Homo sapiens: one gene and its partners. The protein of the gene in region 3 interacts with the protein of the main gene of each other region in a pairwise test. Each region holds a gene or a part of one and is shown on either strand. Other genes may lie near its edges. The genes, in order: PDPK1, UBXN2A, PHAX and MKNK1.

The links.
Region 1: the proteins of PHAX (region 3) and PDPK1 interact in a two-hybrid assay, tested with the Homo sapiens proteins (one large-scale study listed by BioGRID and IntAct).
Region 2: the proteins of PHAX (region 3) and UBXN2A interact in a two-hybrid assay, tested with the Homo sapiens proteins (one large-scale study listed by BioGRID and IntAct).
Region 4: the proteins of PHAX (region 3) and MKNK1 interact in a two-hybrid assay, tested with the Homo sapiens proteins (one large-scale study listed by BioGRID and IntAct).

What each region holds. Positions count from the first base shown.
Region 1 is NC_000016.10:2,558,284-2,562,478, forward strand, and holds part of PDPK1 (3-phosphoinositide-dependent protein kinase 1), read left to right. Parts: exon of another isoform or gene 1-3,196; coding exon 3,197-3,239; intron 3,240-3,462; exon of another isoform or gene 3,463-3,487; coding exon 3,488-3,625; intron 3,626-4,195. UniProt on the Homo sapiens protein: Serine/threonine kinase which acts as a master kinase, phosphorylating and activating a subgroup of the AGC family of protein kinases.
Region 2 is NC_000002.12:23,981,618-23,985,812, reverse strand, and holds part of UBXN2A (UBX domain-containing protein 2A), read right to left. Parts: intron 2,918-4,195; coding exon 2,780-2,917; intron 1,141-2,779; coding exon 982-1,140; intron 1-981. UniProt on the Homo sapiens protein: Acts to repress the ubiquitination and subsequent endoplasmic reticulum-associated degradation of CHRNA3 by the STUB1-VCP-UBXN2A complex in cortical neurons.
Region 3 is NC_000005.10:126,603,415-126,607,609, reverse strand, and holds part of PHAX (phosphorylated adapter RNA export protein), read right to left. Parts: intron 4,041-4,195; coding exon 3,427-4,040; intron 1-3,426. UniProt on the Homo sapiens protein: A phosphoprotein adapter involved in the XPO1-mediated U snRNA export from the nucleus.
Region 4 is NC_000001.11:46,601,032-46,605,947, forward strand, and holds the start of MKNK1 (MAP kinase-interacting serine/threonine-protein kinase 1), read right to left. Parts: upstream 3,238-4,916; 5' UTR 3,154-3,237; exon of another isoform or gene 3,134-3,153; intron 2,757-3,133; exon of another isoform or gene 2,714-2,756; intron 1,121-2,713; exon of another isoform or gene 504-1,120; intron 1-503. UniProt on the Homo sapiens protein: May play a role in the response to environmental stress and cytokines. Appears to regulate translation by phosphorylating EIF4E, thus increasing the affinity of this protein for the 7-methylguanosine-containing mRNA cap.

The DNA of each region.
Region 1 (4,195 bases), on a different chromosome or scaffold from region 3:
ATTCTGTGTCCTTGTGTCTCACTGGCAGGGCCCTGGGAAGCTGTTCTTTTTCTTAGATTGAAAGTTAGTATCTCTCCAGGGTTTTTGGGGACATTTATTGACCTCTTCTTATTTCTCTGTTTTGTTTTTTTGAATACATAAAACAGTACGCTCTGGACATTTGCTGGAGACACAGCCTCCAGAGTCTTGTGTTCCGAGTTTCACAAACAGGAGTATTGTCGCAGTACTGTCAAGTCACACTTGTTACCTGTCTTCGGGGTGTTTTTTCCTCTGAAAGCAAAGAAATGAAGGTCGAAAGCAGCTGACATGGGACGTTTTGCTGACGTGGGACCCATGAAGCCGTGTGTGGTTGTGGATTTAGTGAAGGTTGTAACAGGTTCAGGGGAGGCCTGAGCAACTCGGGGTGTACTGTCTCCATCTGGGCCTCTAAAGAGACAGAGTCCCGTGCCGCCACTGTGGTCGCCAAGGTGGCCGCCGTGTGCGTGCTAGGGCCATTCCAGGGAGCCCTGGGGGCACCTCACTCTGGAGGGCCTGGGTGAGTTCCTGAATAATTCTTTCTTGCCTGACCTTTGTGAAGAAACCGTAGGTGAGGTTTATTTTCCTTTTTTCTCTTTTTTACACATAGGAAATATTTCACAATGCAAAGAAAAACATGAAATATAGCTTACCCATATTCCCAACATATTGTTTTAATTAATGTTAACTTTTGCTGCCCTTACACTTTAGATTTTTTAAATTGCAGGTTTTATGAAATAATTTTTTTATAAAAGGATTATGCCCTCATGAAAAATGCCTTCAACCATGAGACTAGTCCCCAAAGTTTTGGGGACTCAGATCCTTTCAGAAAGAAGAAACTCTTTGGAAAACCTTGGGCATTCTGCATGGCTGCTTACAACCACCCAGTGAAAGAACAGGCCTCCTCTTTTCTCAGCTTTACCTGTTTTTTGAGACAGAGTCTTGCTCTGTCACCCAGGCTTGAGTGCAGTGGCATGATCATAGCTCACTGCAGCCTCGACTTCCTGGGCTCAAGTGATCCTCTTACCTCAGCCTCCCAAGTAGCTGCAGTTACAGGAATGCACCACCGTGCCCAGCTAATTGTAAAATTTTTTGTAGAGACAGGGTCTCACTTTGTTGCCCAGACTGGTCTTGAACTCCTAGGCTCGAGTGATTCTCTCCTCAGCCTTGCAAAGTGTTGGGATTACAGGCGTGAGCCACTGTGCTTGGCCTCAGTTTTACTTCCTTGTATGTCTCTTTTTAATTTAACTTTATTTTATTATGTATGTATTTATCCTTTTAGAAACAGAGTCTTGCTCTGTCACCTAGGCTGGAGTGCAGCGGTGTGATCATAGCTCACTGCAGCCTTCACCACCTGGGCTTAAGCGATCCTCCTGCCTTAGCCTCCTGAGTAGCTGGGACCACAGGCATGTGCCACCATACATGGCCCTTAACATTTATCTTGACTGAAAAAGGAAGACTCATCTGTGAAATTGCCTGTTTCCCTGGGTTCTGGAGATGGGTGGAGAGCAGGCACTGTCCCTCCAGGGGCTGTGGTCCGTGTCTTTCTGAACCTGCACCAGGGAGGTGCCCGGGAGAGCACGGTGAGCCGGAGGCTCCTCCATGGGGCTGTTTGGAATCCACAGTACTGGGTCTCAGATTACATGTGTTACCCTCAGTTCTTTCTCAGCTTTCCTGAAATGGAGATCACATAAAAGTTGATTTCCAGGGGAGGGGGAAAGGACAGTGATAGGAGGCTGGGCAAGAGCCAGCTGCAGCACCGGAGAGCCGGGAGGCCCCCTGAGGACGGTCACAACCTCCAGGGAGGGACACGTCACGCGCCATTCTCTGGAAGAGGATCCTTCCTTCTTGTAGGAAACCTGCTTGTGAAGTGTTGAGTTTAGACAACGGAAAGATCACATCAGTATCCCCTTAGAAAGGGTTCCACTAAATATCGGTGCTCGTTCACAATTCTTTCTTCCTCTTTTCTACTTATGAAGCTAGCACGTGCTCTTGTGGAGAAACGTGACCTCACAGAAACACATGAGCTAGAGAGGGGAGCCCTGCCCGGCCCACTTCCCCTTTCTCCCTGGCAGCTGAGAGCCATCCATGCGTGGCGTATTCCTCTGGGAAGACCTTGAGTATGTAGAGTCCCCAGAATCCAACTTCATTCTTCTTGAGTGCCACAAGGCGTCTCACATGGTGCTTTCCAGGATCTCTTCTGACGTGTCCCATCAGGAGTCCTGCCCCGATTGCGGCTCACAGCCCGGGGCCAGGTGGACCTGGCCCTGTGGCCTCCTGAAGGTCTTCCTGCCAGCCCCCAGGAATGTCACGGGACAGGTTTCCTCTGCTCCCTGCTCCTCAGGCCGTCCCCCTGTGGGTGTCTTAGGAGACACTTGTGTCCCACTTGGTGGTGGTGGGGCCTCCCTGGCACAGCTGCCTCATGCTCTCTGGCTAAACCGTGGGCCCACCAGGAATCTCCAGTCTGGTGCCTCAGGGTGTGCCCCAGGCTAGTCCGAGTGGAGGGTCTCTCCCCTGTTTGGGATGCCTGCCCTGCTGGAGTGCTCTGTCTCGGAGGTGGGGTTTGAGTGCAGGGCTCAGGGGTGCTGAGAGGACAGGGCAGGAGGCCTGCTGCATCCCGGGCAGGTGGCTCCCTCTTGTGGGCACGCAGGGCCATGCATTGCTGGTTTAGCTCCCTCTGTCCTTTACAGCCAGGCTCTCTTCATGGTGCCCACAAGCAACATCATACAAAATGTATGATAACAGTTATTTCCAAAAACGAAACTTCAGGGCAGCCTTTGCAATGAATGTATACTAGAAGGACATATTGTTGTCACAGAAGCCCCTGTGCCCTGCCACTTGTGGTGGCGCCACTGTCTTCCTTCTGTTGGTGAAGGGCGTGGCAGTCGAAGAGGTTCCTGAGTTTGTACTTGTGTTGCACCGTTAGGGCTGTTAGCAGCTGATCCAGAAGCTTCTGGAAACAACAGAGAGATGGATATGTTTTCTCTTAGCTGTTAGAACACATCAACACGAGCATTGGCTTTTAGCTCTACTTGTCAGTACAAGACCCAAAATATTTCACTGTAGACTCAAGCCTTCAGTGGGGACAGGAAGCGTGCGTGTGGGGCAGAGGGACTCGTCAGGCCCAGTGTCCTGGTTATTACATTGTGTGTTTCTTTTTCTCCTTTTCTTTCCCAACCAGGTTGTCCTGGCTCGAGAACTGGCAACCTCCAGAGAATATGCGAGTGAGTATGGGCTGCAGGGAGCTGTGCGTCCGGGAGCAGGGCAAGCGGCTCCGTGCAGGGCGGCTGGGGTGGCAGGGCCGGTGTTTCTGTGCTGATTTCAGGGTACAGGACACTGTTGGCTTTAGAGACCACCAGGCTGTTGTGTACAATGTTTGAAAGACTTTAATTTGTACCAGTTACCTTTGTGAGTCATGTCTTTAGTGTTTTTTGTTGTTTCTGATAGTAACTCACTTCTCTCTCACCTGAAGTTAAAATTCTGGAGAAGCGACATATCATAAAAGAGAACAAGGTCCCCTATGTAACCAGAGAGCGGGATGTCATGTCGCGCCTGGATCACCCCTTCTTTGTTAAGCTTTACTTCACATTTCAGGACGACGAGAAGCTGTGTATCCTTTGCGTGGTTGGTGCCGTCTGAAGCCACACCAGTCACCCCTCTCACTTGGAATCAGACCCTGTGTGTTCCCACAAGCAGCCCCCGCTCCCTGCCGAGTGGGGTCCCTCAGGCCGCTGACATTCAGGGAGGCAGCCGAGGCAGCGCCAGGGTGTGGCTGGGAGTCTGCACAGGACGTTACCTCCCGGAGAAGCCACCGATGTGGCTCCAGCACAGTCCTCTCTGCTGCGGCTTGCTTGGTCGGCGTCCCTTGCTCCCCTAGAGCGCCATCTTTTCTGTTATTAAACCTTGGCTCAGGAATCTGGGAGGCAAGGCCCGGTGGAAGTTGGGGTGGGCCCCACCTCTGCCCCATCCAGCTGACCTGTGGGCCTGCCAGTGGCTGGGCTGGCCACGCCACACCGTCGTCACCCCCAGCAGGTGCAGTCTGCATCTGCTCTTCTCCTCCCCCGCCACCCTCCAAGCTGGCCCAAGTGTCGTGGCCTCCCCATCCTGCCTGGGGAGGGGCCTGAGTCCTCCCACCTGTCCTCCCCGTCTCTCCCCAGCACCCGGCTCTTCTGTGTTAGAG
Region 2 (4,195 bases), on a different chromosome or scaffold from region 3:
TATGGCCCAGGCTGATCTTGAACTCCTGAGCTCAAGTGATCCTCCTGCCTTGGCCCCTCAAAGTGCTGGGATTACAGGCATGGGCCATTGCACCTGGCCTACCTCATTCAATGTTTAAAAATACCCATTATCAGCTGGGCACGGTGGCTCGCGCCACTCTACTCCAGCCTGGGTGACAGAGTGAGACCTTGCCTCAAAAAAAAAAAAAAACTGTCTAGACATAATTATGTTTAGAGAACTATTTATTAAAATGTTTGGCCAGGCTGGTCGAGGTGGCTCACTCCTGTAATCCTAGCACTTTGGGAGGCCAAAGCGGGCAGATCACTTGAGGTCAGAAGTTTGAGACCACCCTGGCCAAACTCCTGGTGAAACCCCGTCTCTACTAAAAATACAAAAATTAGCCGGGCTTGGTGGTGCAAACCTGTAATCCCAGCTACATTGGACGCTGAGGCAGGACAATCACTTGAAGCTGGGAGGCAGAGGTTGCAGTGAGCTGAGATCGTGCCACTACACTCCAGCCTGGGCAACAGAGCGAGACTCCGACTCAAAAAAATAAATAAATAAATAAAATGCTTGGCAGGATGCGATGGCTCATGCCTGTAATCCCAGCACTTTGGCAGGCTAAGGCAGGACGATGAATTCAGTCCAGGAGTTTGAGACCAGTGTGGGCAACACAGTGAGACTCCCTTTCTACAAAACAATTTTTAAAATTAGCTGGCAATAAATAAAAATTAAAAAAAAAAAGTTAGCTGGGCATGGTGGCATGTGGCTGTAGTTCTACAACTCAGGAGGCTGAGGTGGGAGGATTGCTTGAATCCAGGACTTCAAGACTGCAGTGAGCTATGACTGTGCCACTGCACTCTGGCCTGGGCAACAAAGAAAGATTCTATCTCTAAAAAATAAACTGTTGACTGAACCAAAAAGAAAAAATGAAATTTTAACTTGGTGAAAAAATATCAAATACTGAAATTGAAGACTCACCTATGAGTAATGTTAAATTTCTGGACAATCCTTTTTCCATTGGCCAACCAGATCTGTATATTAGTAATGGGTTCCAAGTTGTTCAGTGGAACAGCAGACAAATTATTTTTATTTTCAACTTCAATATTCTTTGCTTTAGAAACAATTTTTGGTGTGGCACTAAGGAAATCCAGACAACAAAGTTAGACGTTTTTTCCATTCAATAAAACTTTATTATTAAATAATTACTATAAAAATATTATAGCAAGTATAACTTTAAGGAAGATTTTTTAAGTTATATGTGTTTCTTCAGTAATAACAGAAAGATATATTATTTATGTCCACAATATATGATGGTTCTAAGAATCTGATGAAGTTATACATATCTGAGTAATTTGTAAGCTACATATATTATTACTGGTATTATTTGAGTAGTGCTTTACAGAATGGATAATTTTAAAGAAGGTTCATAGATCTATGGACTTTACCTTTACCTACTGCCCAGGTTAAATTTCTAGAAGAAATTATAAGTTCTTTATTGAGCTTAGTCCTTAGGTTATAATGAAAAAGAAACTAAATAAAGTACTTCCTGATCATTCTGAAGGATGCATCCAGATATATTTGTATGTGTGGATGAATATGTATGCACCTTACCAATCTTGATAATTTAAAATATGAGAATTTATAAAAATCAAAGAGCTCTCATATCTATATAATCTCTCTGCATATTCTGTTAGATAGGATGGAAACTGTAAAACTTGAAAATAATTTAAGGCTTTGATACTGACACTGATTTTCATTTTTATTACCTCAAAATTCATACATAGATCACAGAACAAAATGTTGCAGACAGTGGTAACCATAAAAGAGAACAATAGGCTGGGTGCGGTGGCTCACACCTGTAATCCCAGCACTTTGGGAGGCCGAGGTGGGTGGATCACCTGCGGTCAGGAGTTCAAGACCAGCCTGGCCAACATGGCGAAACCCTGTCTCTACTAAAAATACAAAAATTGGCTGGGCGTGGTGGTGTATGCCTGTAATCCCAGCTACTAGAGGGGCTGAGGCAGGAGGATTGCTTGAACCAGGGAGGCAGAAGTTGCAGTGAGCCAAGATCATGCCACTGCACTCCAGCCTGGGCAACAAAGTGAGGCTCTGTCTCAAAAAAAAGAGAACAATAATATTCAAAAGCTAGTACATGTACTCTACAGTGGTGAGTGCAAGGGACACAAAAGAACTTAACTATTGAATTCTGTCCTTAATAAGCCAAGCCCTTTTGATTTGAAAAAAAGAAAAACAAAAAAGCCTGCATGATTTTTTACTGTATTGCTGGCATTTCTTTTTTTTTGAGACAGAGTTTCACTCTTGTTGCCCAGACTGGAGAGCAATGGCGCGATCTCGGCTCACCGCAATCTCTGCCTCCCAGGTTCAAGCGATTCTCCTGCCTCAGCCTCCCGAGGAGCTGGGATTACAGACACATGCCACCACGCCTGGCTAATTTTTTGTATTTTTAGTAGAGACGGGGTTTCTCCATGTTGGTCAGGCTGGTCTCGAACTCCCGATCTCAGGTGATCCGCCCACCTTGGCCTCCCAAAGTGCTGGGATTACAGGCATGAGCCACTATGCCTGGCCAGGCATTGTTAATATATACTTAGGTAACTATGACTTATGTGTCCTCATAAAAATTAACATTAAAAAAAATCTGATTTCCAATGGGAGAAATGATAAGCTCCATTCATGTGGTCTACATGGGTAAAATACTGATAGACAGAATATTAGTTAAGCCTTGATCTATGCAAAACAAGACAATAGGCATATTTACCTTCCTAGTCTGTGACCCTGTCCTGAAAAGGGCTGGAACACAGGCTTCGTAGACAAACATATTTCATTTTTCTTGTCTTCAACTTTAACGTCCACCTCTTCTTTATCAAAAATTCCCTGTAATTCTGAAGGTAATTCCCTTGGAAAACAAAGAAAGAAAATGATAAAGCTCCCAATGTATTTTATTTCTCTGAAAAACATTCTGTACATACAAAAAATGAATATGTAGAAATATACAGAAATATATAATATTCTATACAATGAAATAACTAAATGTATTCAAAACAATGTAGTTAAATAATATGAATACCAAAAACCCACAGGAATATAATTTTTAAGACCATAAGCTCATGAACAGCATCAGTTTTTATTATTTTTTATTGTGAAAGCATATATTTTTTAAATTTTCTGTAGAGACAGGGTCTTGTCCAGGCTGGTCTTGAACTCCTGGGCTCAAGCAATCTTCCTCCCTCAGACTCCCAAAGTGCTGGGATTATAGGCGTGAACCACTGCCCCCCAACCAGCATGAGTTTTATAGCAGTACCTAAAATAGTACTAAAGTCATGAAATACTTGATGACTATATACTACACCAGGCTTGTCCAATCTGTGGCCTAGGACGGCTTTAAATGTGGCCCAACAAAAATTTGTAAACTTTTTTTTTTTTTTGAGACGGAGTCTTGCTCTGTCGCCCAGGCTGGACTGCAGTGGCACGATCTCGGCCCACTGCAAGCTCCGCCTCCCGGGTTCACGCCATTCTCCTGCCTCAGCCTCCTAAGTAGCTGGGACTACAGGCGCCTGCCACCACGCCCAGTTAATTTTTTTTTTTTTGGTATTTTTAGTAGAGATGGAGTTTCATCGTGTTAGCCAGGATGGTCTCGATCTCCTGACCTTGTGTTCTGCCCGCCTCAGCCTCCCAAAGTGCTGGGATTACAGGTGTGAGCCACCGTGCCTGGAAAACTTTCTTAAAACATTATGAGATTTATGAGACTTTTTTGCAATTTTTTTAAAGCTTATCAGCTATCGTCAGTATTAGTGTATTTTAGTATTTTATGTGTGCCCCAAGACCATTCTTCTTCCAATGTGGCCCAGGGAAGCCAAAAGACTGGATATCTCTGTTAAATAAATAATTTGAGTTTCTTGTTTTTGGGACAGGGTCTCATTCTGTTTCCCAGGCTGGAGTGCAGTGGTGCAATCATGGCTCCCTGCAGCCTTGACCTCCTGGGCTGAAGCGATCCTCCTGCCTCAGACTCCTGAGTAGCGGGGACTATAGGCCACCATGCCCGGCTAATTTTTGTATTTTTTGTAAAGATGGGGTTTCACCATGTTGCCCAGGCTGGTCCTGAGCTCCTAGGCTCAAGTGATCTGCCCACCTCAGCCTCCCAAAGTGTTGGGATTACAGGTGTGAGCCACCACGC
Region 3 (4,195 bases):
CTAACGTGGAGAAACCCCGTCTTTACAAAAAATACAAAATTAGCTGGGTGTGGTGGCACATGCCTATAATCCCAGCTACTTGGGAGGCTGAGGCAGGAGAATTGCTTGAACCCTGAGGCTGAGGCAGAGGTTGCAGTGAGCCAAGATGGCACCACTGCACTCCAGCCTGGGCAACGAGAGTGAAACTCCGTCTCAAAAAAAAAAAAAAAAAAAAAAAAAAAGAATTCAGACCTGGCACCCTTTGTTTCTTCTCAACAGGAGGCAGTGCATTTTTGTGGAAAGAGAAATAGACTAGGAACACAAGGATCAGGGTTTAACTCCAGGTCTAATATTAATCTGTGAAATGAAGGTTTTGGTTTACAACATCTCTAAGTTTCTTTCCAGCACTCAAATTCCAAACTTCCCCAGTATTTTAAAAATCAAGTACTGGTGTTCAGATAGGCTTGCCTGGAAAGTAAATACTTGTTTTCCTACCACCTGCATTACTCTTGAACCGTATCTGTTTTCAAATTTATGACACTGTTCATTAGTAATTTAGAGCTAATGAAAATGTTAATTCAAAATCTGAACTTGGTAAAAATACATGAATTGTAAATTTACCATACACCAAGCAATTCTACTTCTGGGTATTTACCTGAAAGAAATGAAAATATGGCCAGGTGAGGTGGCTCATGCCTGTAATCCCAACACTTTGGGAGGTCGAAGGGGGTGGATCATCTGAGGTTAGAAGTTTGAGACCAGCCTGGTCAACAAGGTGAAACCCTGTCTCTACTAAAAATACAAAAAAAAAATTATCTGGGCGTGGTGGCGCACGCCTCTAATCCCGGCTACTAGGGAGGCTGAGGCAGGAGATTTGATTGAACCCAGGAGGCGGAGGTTGCAGTGAGCTGAGATCATGCCACTGCACTCCATCCTGGGCAACAGAGTGAGACTCTGTCTAAAACAAAACAAAAGAAAACAAAGATATGAAAATATGTGTTTAAAGATCTGGATGTGAAGGTTCATAACAGCATTATTCATGATAGCCAAAAAGTAGAATATTCAATATGAATATATGCATATATACACACACTATAAAAATGTATTGATTCCTGCTACACCATGGATCAATCTCAAAAACACAACATTGGCTGGGCACAGTGGCTTACGCCTCTAATCCCACCACTTTGGGAGGCTGAGGTGGTCTGGAGTTCGAGACCAGCCTGGCCAACATGGCGAAACCCTGTCTCTACTAAAAAATATAAAAATTAGCTGGGCGTTGTAGCACATGGCTGTAATTCCAGCTACTCACGAGGCTGAGGCATGAGAATTGCTTGAACCCAGGAGGCGGAGGTTGCAGTGAGCTGAGATCGTGACACTGCACTCCAGCCTGGGCAACAGAGTGACACTCTGTCTCAAACAAACAAACAAACAATCAAAAAAACAAACCACACACACAAAAAAACAAAAACAAAAACAAACAAAAACATAACATTAGCTGACAGAAGCAAGGCACGAGATTACATACTACATGACACCATTTATATGAAATATCCAAAAAAGGCAAATTTATAGACAGAAAGTAGATTAGCAGTTATCTGGGAATGAGAACAGGGATTAACTATAAACTGGCATGTGGACATAAGGGATCTTACTGGGTGACAGAAATGTTTCAGAGGTGATGGTTATACAACTTGATATGTTTCCTAAAAAAATTAACACTAGAAATGGGTGAATATTATCTGTAAAATATACCTCAAAGTTAAGAAAAAAGTCACAAATTCTTGAAAACACTAAACAAACAAAAACAACCCATGATTTAAAAATATATGCTTTATTTAAAAAGCTCTATGGCACTAAATGCAACAAGTTGTTTAACAGTTCATAAAAGTCTACAAAATTATTCTATCAGGCTTGTCCAAATTTAAGAAAACACAGTGGGTGCGCAGCTCACGCCTATAATCCCAGCATTTGGGAGGCCAAGGCAGGCAAATCACTTGAGGCCAGGAGATCGAGATCAGTCCGGCCAACATAATGAAACCCTATCTCTACTAAAAATACAAAAAAAAAAAAATTATTTGGGTGTGGTGGCGAATGCCTATAGTCCCAGCTACTCAGGTGGCTCTCTCACGTTCAAGCAATTCTCATGAGGGGACGTTGCAGTGAGCCAGGATACCACCACTGCACTCCAGCCTGGGTGACAGAGCAAGACTGTCTCATAAACAAAAAACCAACAGAAAAATACATTACGAATGTATTCATATAACCAAATTATCCCAGTTCCTTAAAGAAAAATTTTCAAAGACTCAGGTACAGTGGCTCACACCTATAATCCCAGCAATCTGGGAAGTTGAGGCAGGAGGATTGCTTAAGCCCAGGAGTTCAGCTTCAATGAGCTCTGATTGTGCTACTGCACTCCAGCTGAGTGACCAGAGCAAGACCATCTCTTAAAAAAAAAAAAAAATCTGTGGACAGCGCAGTGGTTGATGCATATAATCCCAGCACTTTGGGAGGCCAATGTGGGAGGACTGCTTGTTCCCAGGAGTTTGACACCAGCCTGGGCAACACAGTGAAACTCCTAATTTTTTTTTTTTTCTGAGATGGAGTCTAGTTCTGTCACCCAGGCTGGAGTGCAGTGGCACAATCTCGGCTCACTGCAACCTCCGCCTCCCGGGTTCAAGTGATTCTCCTGCCTCAGCCTCCCGAGTAGCTGGGATTACAGGCGCCCACTACCACGCCCAGCTAATTTTTGTATTTTTAGTAGAGATGGGGTTTCACTGTGTCGGCCAGGCTGGTCTTGAACTCCTGACCTCATGATCCACTCACCTCAGCCTCCCAAAGTGCTGGGATTACAAGCATGAGCCACTCTGTCTGGCCATAATTTTTTTTTTTTAATTGGCCAGGCATAATGGCCTGAGCCTGTAGTCCCAGTTACTCAGGAAGCTGAGGTGGAAGGATCCTTTCAGCCCAAGAGTTCTAGGTTCCAGTGAGGTGTGATTGCAGCACTGCACTCCAGCCTGGGCAAGAGTGAGATCCTTTCTCAAATAAATAAATAAATAAATAGATTAGGCCAGCCCATGGCTCACGCCTGTAATCTCAGCACTTTGAGAGGCAAAGGCGGGTGGATCCCTTGAGCTCTGGAGTTCGAGAGTAGCTTGGACAACATGGCAAGACCCTGTCTCTATTAAAAATACAAAGAATAGCTGGGCGTGGGGGTGCATACCTGTGGTCCCAGCTATTCAGGAGGCTGAGGTAAGAGAATCCCTTGAGCGAGGAGGCGGAGGTTGCAGTGAGTAACTGCACTCCAGCCTGGGTGACAGAGCAAGACCCTGTCTCCAAAAAAAAAAAAAAAAAAAGGAACATATCATTAAAGTATTTGGCATTCATTTTATTTCCTGTAAATAGAAGCCATCTGGTCAAGTACTTATTTGTAATTCAAATGCTCACCTGAATGAAATTTCATCAGCCACTTTCTCTTGAGAATCTTCCGCTGTGATCTCGTATCGACCTTTATAGTTCATTTCTGGTCTGTTCCCTAGCCTGTCTTTGACAGGTCGTTTCCTTTTGAGATGACCTTGCCCATTTTCCTCTTCCTTTGATCCCATTTTTTTGCCACCATGCATATATTCATCTAGTTCCTTGTCTAGATCTTTTGTATGCTCTTGAGATTCCTTCCTAAGTTTCTTGGCAAGCAAATAATTGTAGGTCTCGGATTGTCTGCTTCTGTCAATAGTGCCCTCCATTCCCAAGATACCAAGTTCAGTGGCCACTGCATCTTGATTCTGTTCCTGCAGCACAGCACCCCATATGTTGTTAATCTTCTTTCCTCCAGCAACAGGTGGTTTCTGACTGCTCTGGCCAAACTGAAAAGGCTCTGGTTTGGGAGGAGGGTTAAAACATTTCTGTCGTTTGCGTTTCCAAAGACAGCTATCATCATCTGAATCAGAAAAACTTTCTTCACTTGAATCCACACTTTCAACAGCTCGATAATGTGATACTGGTGCACATGCAGTTGCCGTGTTCTGGAAGGCCCTCATAGCACTGTCGCCACCTAGCACTTTCTGCAAGTGAAAAGAAACACAATCAATTTCACAAAACACATAAACTCCACCTACCTAATTTTTAAAAATTTAGAGATTCAACTTTGCCATTCCAAAATGGAACTGATCTTCAAAGACAAATCTGAGACCAATCAAGTTCCTACTTTTCTAAGTTC
Region 4 (4,916 bases), on a different chromosome or scaffold from region 3:
TCAGCCTCCCAAATAGTTGGGATTACAGGCACCCACCACCATGCACAGCTAATTTTTGTATTTTTAGTAGAGATGGGGTTTCACCATGTTGGTCAGGCTGGTCTCGAACTTCTGACCTCAGGTGATCCACCTGCCTCGGCCTCCCAAAGTGCTGGGATTACAGGCGTGAGCCACACACCGGCCTCCTTGTGTAATCTCAATCAAGTCCTTTCCCCATCTATAAAATGAAAGTGGCGGAACCAGATGGTTGGTTTCCAAGCTCCTTCTACCTTCAACCATGTAAATTTTTCTCTGATCAAGAAATAACTTTCTCTTCCACATGCTGAGGCTGTTGGCAAGGGAAAATGTGCATTTATAGCTGCTGGTCCCCAGATGGGAGGAACCACTGTTTCCCAAGGCCAAGGGCAGAGTAAACTGATTAGAAAACCACCTGTGAGCTTTCCCCTGTTTGAACTGTACTATTAATACACCCAGTGCAGGTCTCTGAACACAGCATTACCTACCTTCCAACAAAACTCACGGTCAAGGCAAGACAAGAGCCTGAAAACAATGGCTGCAATGAAGAATGCCTGCTTGTGCAGAATTCTTGTACTTTCTTGTTTTTGATGCCTGTAATTAGGGCATCAGTCTAAACTGGGGCCCTCCTTAGGCACAAAGAGGAGGAAAAACACAAAGTCCCATTCTGAACCTGACAGCTCATAAAACAAGGGCCAAACCTAGTAAATAAAAAATGTCACTGACTCACTTAACCACAAACACTGAAGAGGCCTACTATGTGCTGGCCCTATGCTGGACAGAGGAGGAAGGAAAGAGACATGGTCCCTTGCCACCCACGTACTCAGAGTACATATGGAGTGTACATATCCCTAGGCAGACTATGATGAGAGCTATATTAGAGGGTCAGCCTTTGCTACAGAAGATGGAAAGGGGAACAACTAATCCAGCAGAAGGCTCAGAAAAGCTTCACCATGGAGGCCACATGAGATGTAAGAGATGTAAGCCTTGAAAGATGAGGAGGAGGAGGGAAATCCAGGAAGAGAGAATATAAGCAAAGGCTCGAGCAGGAACATGCAGGGAGTGTTTGAGAAACAGAGATTTGGCCGGGCACGTTGGCTCACATCTGTAGTACCAGCACTTTGGGAGGCCCAGGCAGGCGGATCACCTGAGGTCAGAAGTTTGAATCCAGCCTGGCCAACATGGCGAAACCCCGTCTCTACTAAAAATACAAAAATTAGCCGGGTGTGGTGGCTCATGCCTGTAATTCCAGCTACTCAGGAGGCTGAGGCAGGAGAATCACTTGAACCTGGGAAGTGGAGGTTGCAGTGAGCCGAGATTGTGCCACTGCACTCCAGCCTGGGTGACAAAGTGAGACTCCATCTCAAAAAAAAAGGAGAAACAGAGACAACTAGTTTATTTTGACTGAAGCACAGGTTGCAGGTTTGGGAAAACCAAGGGAAACAGGGAGGGGAGAGGTGTGGGAACAAATTGTGCAGGAACTTGTCTGAGGCTGGAGTCCAAACTCTACATCCAGCTTGTCCAACCCGCGGCCCTGGATGGCTCTGAATGTGGTCCAACACAAATTCATAAACGTTCTTAAAACACTGAGATTTTTTTGCAATTTTTTTAAAGCTCATCAGCTATTGTTAATGTTAGTGTATTTTATGTGTGGCCCAAGATGGTTCTTCTTCTTCCAATGTGGCCCAGGGAAGCCAAAAGATTGGACACCACTGCTCTATATAGTAGGCAATGATGCCCACCAAGGTTTCCGAGTAGTGTCTCAGGAAGAGCACAAGGGCACCCATGAAGAGGATGCAAAAGGAACTAAGTAATTCAATTACTCTGGGACCACATTACAGGAGACCACATGCACTTTCTAAGCACGTGCTGGGCTCTGACAGCTCCTGTTCACAGAGCTTCCCTCTCCCATGGCTTCGCTTCATGCAATCTGAGTTGCCATCCCCCACAACTGTCAACATCTGCAAAATACCAGAGTAACAGGACTCCTAACCAACTCTCTGGATTACAGAGAGAGAAGTGTTGAGGTGGGAGCAGATGGGCAGAGGGGGCACCAAAGCCTCTAGCTGGCTCAGTTCCATATAAAACCCAACCCTGGATTTCCTCTTCACATCACTTCCAGCCCAGCCCTCTAATGAAGGGCTGAAGCTAAGGAGAGTGGGCTGAAAGCACCTGGCTGATGGGTGGTGATCCAGTGAGACATTACACCTACTGTCCAGCATGTGCCTGGCGCATGGGCAGTGGTGCCCTTCCCATTCTGCAGGGTCAGTTCCATCTGTAAATCCCACTGAGGCTTCAAGGCCCAGGTCACAACAACTCTTCTCTCAGAGCCTTTCTAAAGTACCCCAATCCAAAATGACCAAGCTCCTAGAAATCACAGCTACCATGTATTCAGCACCCATTACATGACAGGCGCCATACTAGGTGACTTCCATATAATCCTATTCACCCTTCACAATGACCCTATTATGGCCATTTCCTAGGGAAGAAAGTGAAGCTCTGGGAGGGGAAGCAGACTTGCCCCAGGACACACAGCTAAGAGGTGGAAGAGATGAGATCTAAACCCAGGACTCCCTGACCCTGAAGTTGAGCACTTCTAACAACACTTCATTCCTGTGAGCCTGCCTGCCTCTGATCTGCCACTGTCAGGGAGCTTGGAGCTCTCTAGAAGACAGGGTGCACCTGACACTCTTATTACCTTTCCCTGTGGACAGCCATCCACACAGGCAGGAGCCTTTAAATACTGAAAATAAATGAAAACAATTAACTTAAAAATAACGCAGTACACAGATTTCACAAATTCCTCACGTGAAAAACTATTCATGATACTGGACTGCCTGAGCCCTGCGCCCAGCCATAGCCTCGGTCCTGATCCCTGGGAGAGACTGAGTCTCAAACGGGCCACAGAGTAAGCGCCATCTCGGACACCGGCCACGCCCCGACCCCAGGCACAGAGGTCGCAGACAGCTCGGGACAGTCCTGAAAAGCGTCCCCTTAGGCTGTCCCTCCGCAGCTGAATCGCGTCGTGACCTCGGGCAGCCGTGAAGGCCCTGACTGCCCCCTTCCGGGCACACGAGCTCACTCACAGACCCCGGCCCCATTTAGCTCGGAGGAATACCTCGCAGGTCTCGCTTTTACCTTCGCTGGCTCCCGCCGGGGAGCGGTCGCGCGCACCCCTACCTGCAGATCGCTCCTCCGAGAACGCGGAAGAGGCGGTGCTAGATCCAGGGGGTGGGCCCGATCAGAGAGGAGGGTGAGGGGGCGGAGCTGCGCCTGCGCCCTGATGGCTACCCAGGGCCGCCTGAGGGCAGGGGGCTCGAGCTGAGCGAACTGCGCAGGCGTGACAGGGAAGAGGCGGGGAGAGGGGAGATTGCTGGCAAGCGGGTGGGGCTTAGCTCCTCCGGCGCTTTCTTTTCCGAATGGAGGGTGGAGAAGCCCGGGAAGGTAGGAGGCCGGGCGCGACAGGTGTAATTAACATGTACTGAGAGCTTCTGCAGGCCAGGAAGGAATTTTAAAATGCCTTTTATATGTGGGGAAATGCTGCTAGTCTTTTCTAAAACGGGGGCCAATTCTGTACAATTTCTTTAAAAGTCTGAGTGCCTAGAATTTCACCATAAGAGTTTCTCCTTGAGTACAACATTATCCCCAGTATTTCAAAATTTTTAAAACTTTTAAAAGTTCATTTCTTGGGGAAAAACAACTGTAAATAGGTTAATGCCTCAACCAGTCTCCCCACATCCCCTTCCCAAGTCTGCAGCTGCGATGAGAAAGGATGAGAGTGTGGACTGGGATTTAATTCAGGCGCTGACTCCGAGTGATGGAGGTGAACATCCCTTCCCTGCCTGTCTCAGGATTATCGTGAGGATTTGGTAAGCCAAGCTAGTTAAAGAGCCCCAGGGACTTGCTTCCCATCATCCACCTGACAAACATTTGTTCCCTGTCTTGTCGGGGCTGTCTTTTCATCTGTATGATGGAAGGAGATTGGGAATATTAGTGAACATTCAGGACTTTGCTAGATTTCCCAATCTGGGTGAAGGCCGGAGAGGCGGAAGATCAAGCTTCTGTGTTCATTCCCTTCTGGAATCCTGCGGTCCAACCTGAGGGCCCCGATGTATCCTGACTTCTCCCACTCATTACCTTCCGTGGAGGCCGATCCAAGCTTCAAGTCTTCAGAGGCCCTGCTGGCCTGTTCCCTTCCCTGTTGCCTGTGGCAATAGCCCAAGAGATTCAGGACCTATGTTCCAGGTTCTCAAAGTTGCTATGTCCCTCACATGGCAATCAAATTCAGTTAACATCTTTGAGGGCTCTGGGGGTGCTCAGAGGAAGGAGGGCTCCCCCAAAGCAGGTGGAGCTCTAGTCATGACTGTGGCTTATTTCACCACATATTCCACAGCTTGCTGTGGGGTAGGGAGGAGAGGCAACAGGAAACCTCAGAGGCTGCAGTGTTTATGGGAGCCGAGGGTGATGCGGCATCCTTTACTCAATAGGTGGATGCTCTGCCCCAGGCTGGAGAGGATGGCTTACTACCTAGGTCCCTGCTCCAAATATTGTTTTGGAATTTTTTTTCTTTTTTTTTTTCTGAGACAAGGTCTCACTGTGTTCCCCAGGCTGGAGTGCAGTGGCACCAGCTTTGCTCACTGCAACCTCTGCTTGGGCTCAAGTGATCCTCCTGCTTCAGCCTCCTGAGTAGCTGGGATTACAGGCATGCACTACCATGACTGGCTAATTTTTGAATTTTTTTAGAGGCAGGGTTTTGCCATGTTGCCCAGGCTGGTCTCGAACTCCTGAGCTCAATGATCCTCCCACCTTGGCCTCCCAAAGTGCTGGGATTACAGGGAAGAGCCACTATGCCCAGCTTTGTTATGGACCTTGAGCCAACAGGAAAATAAAGCCCAGCCTGA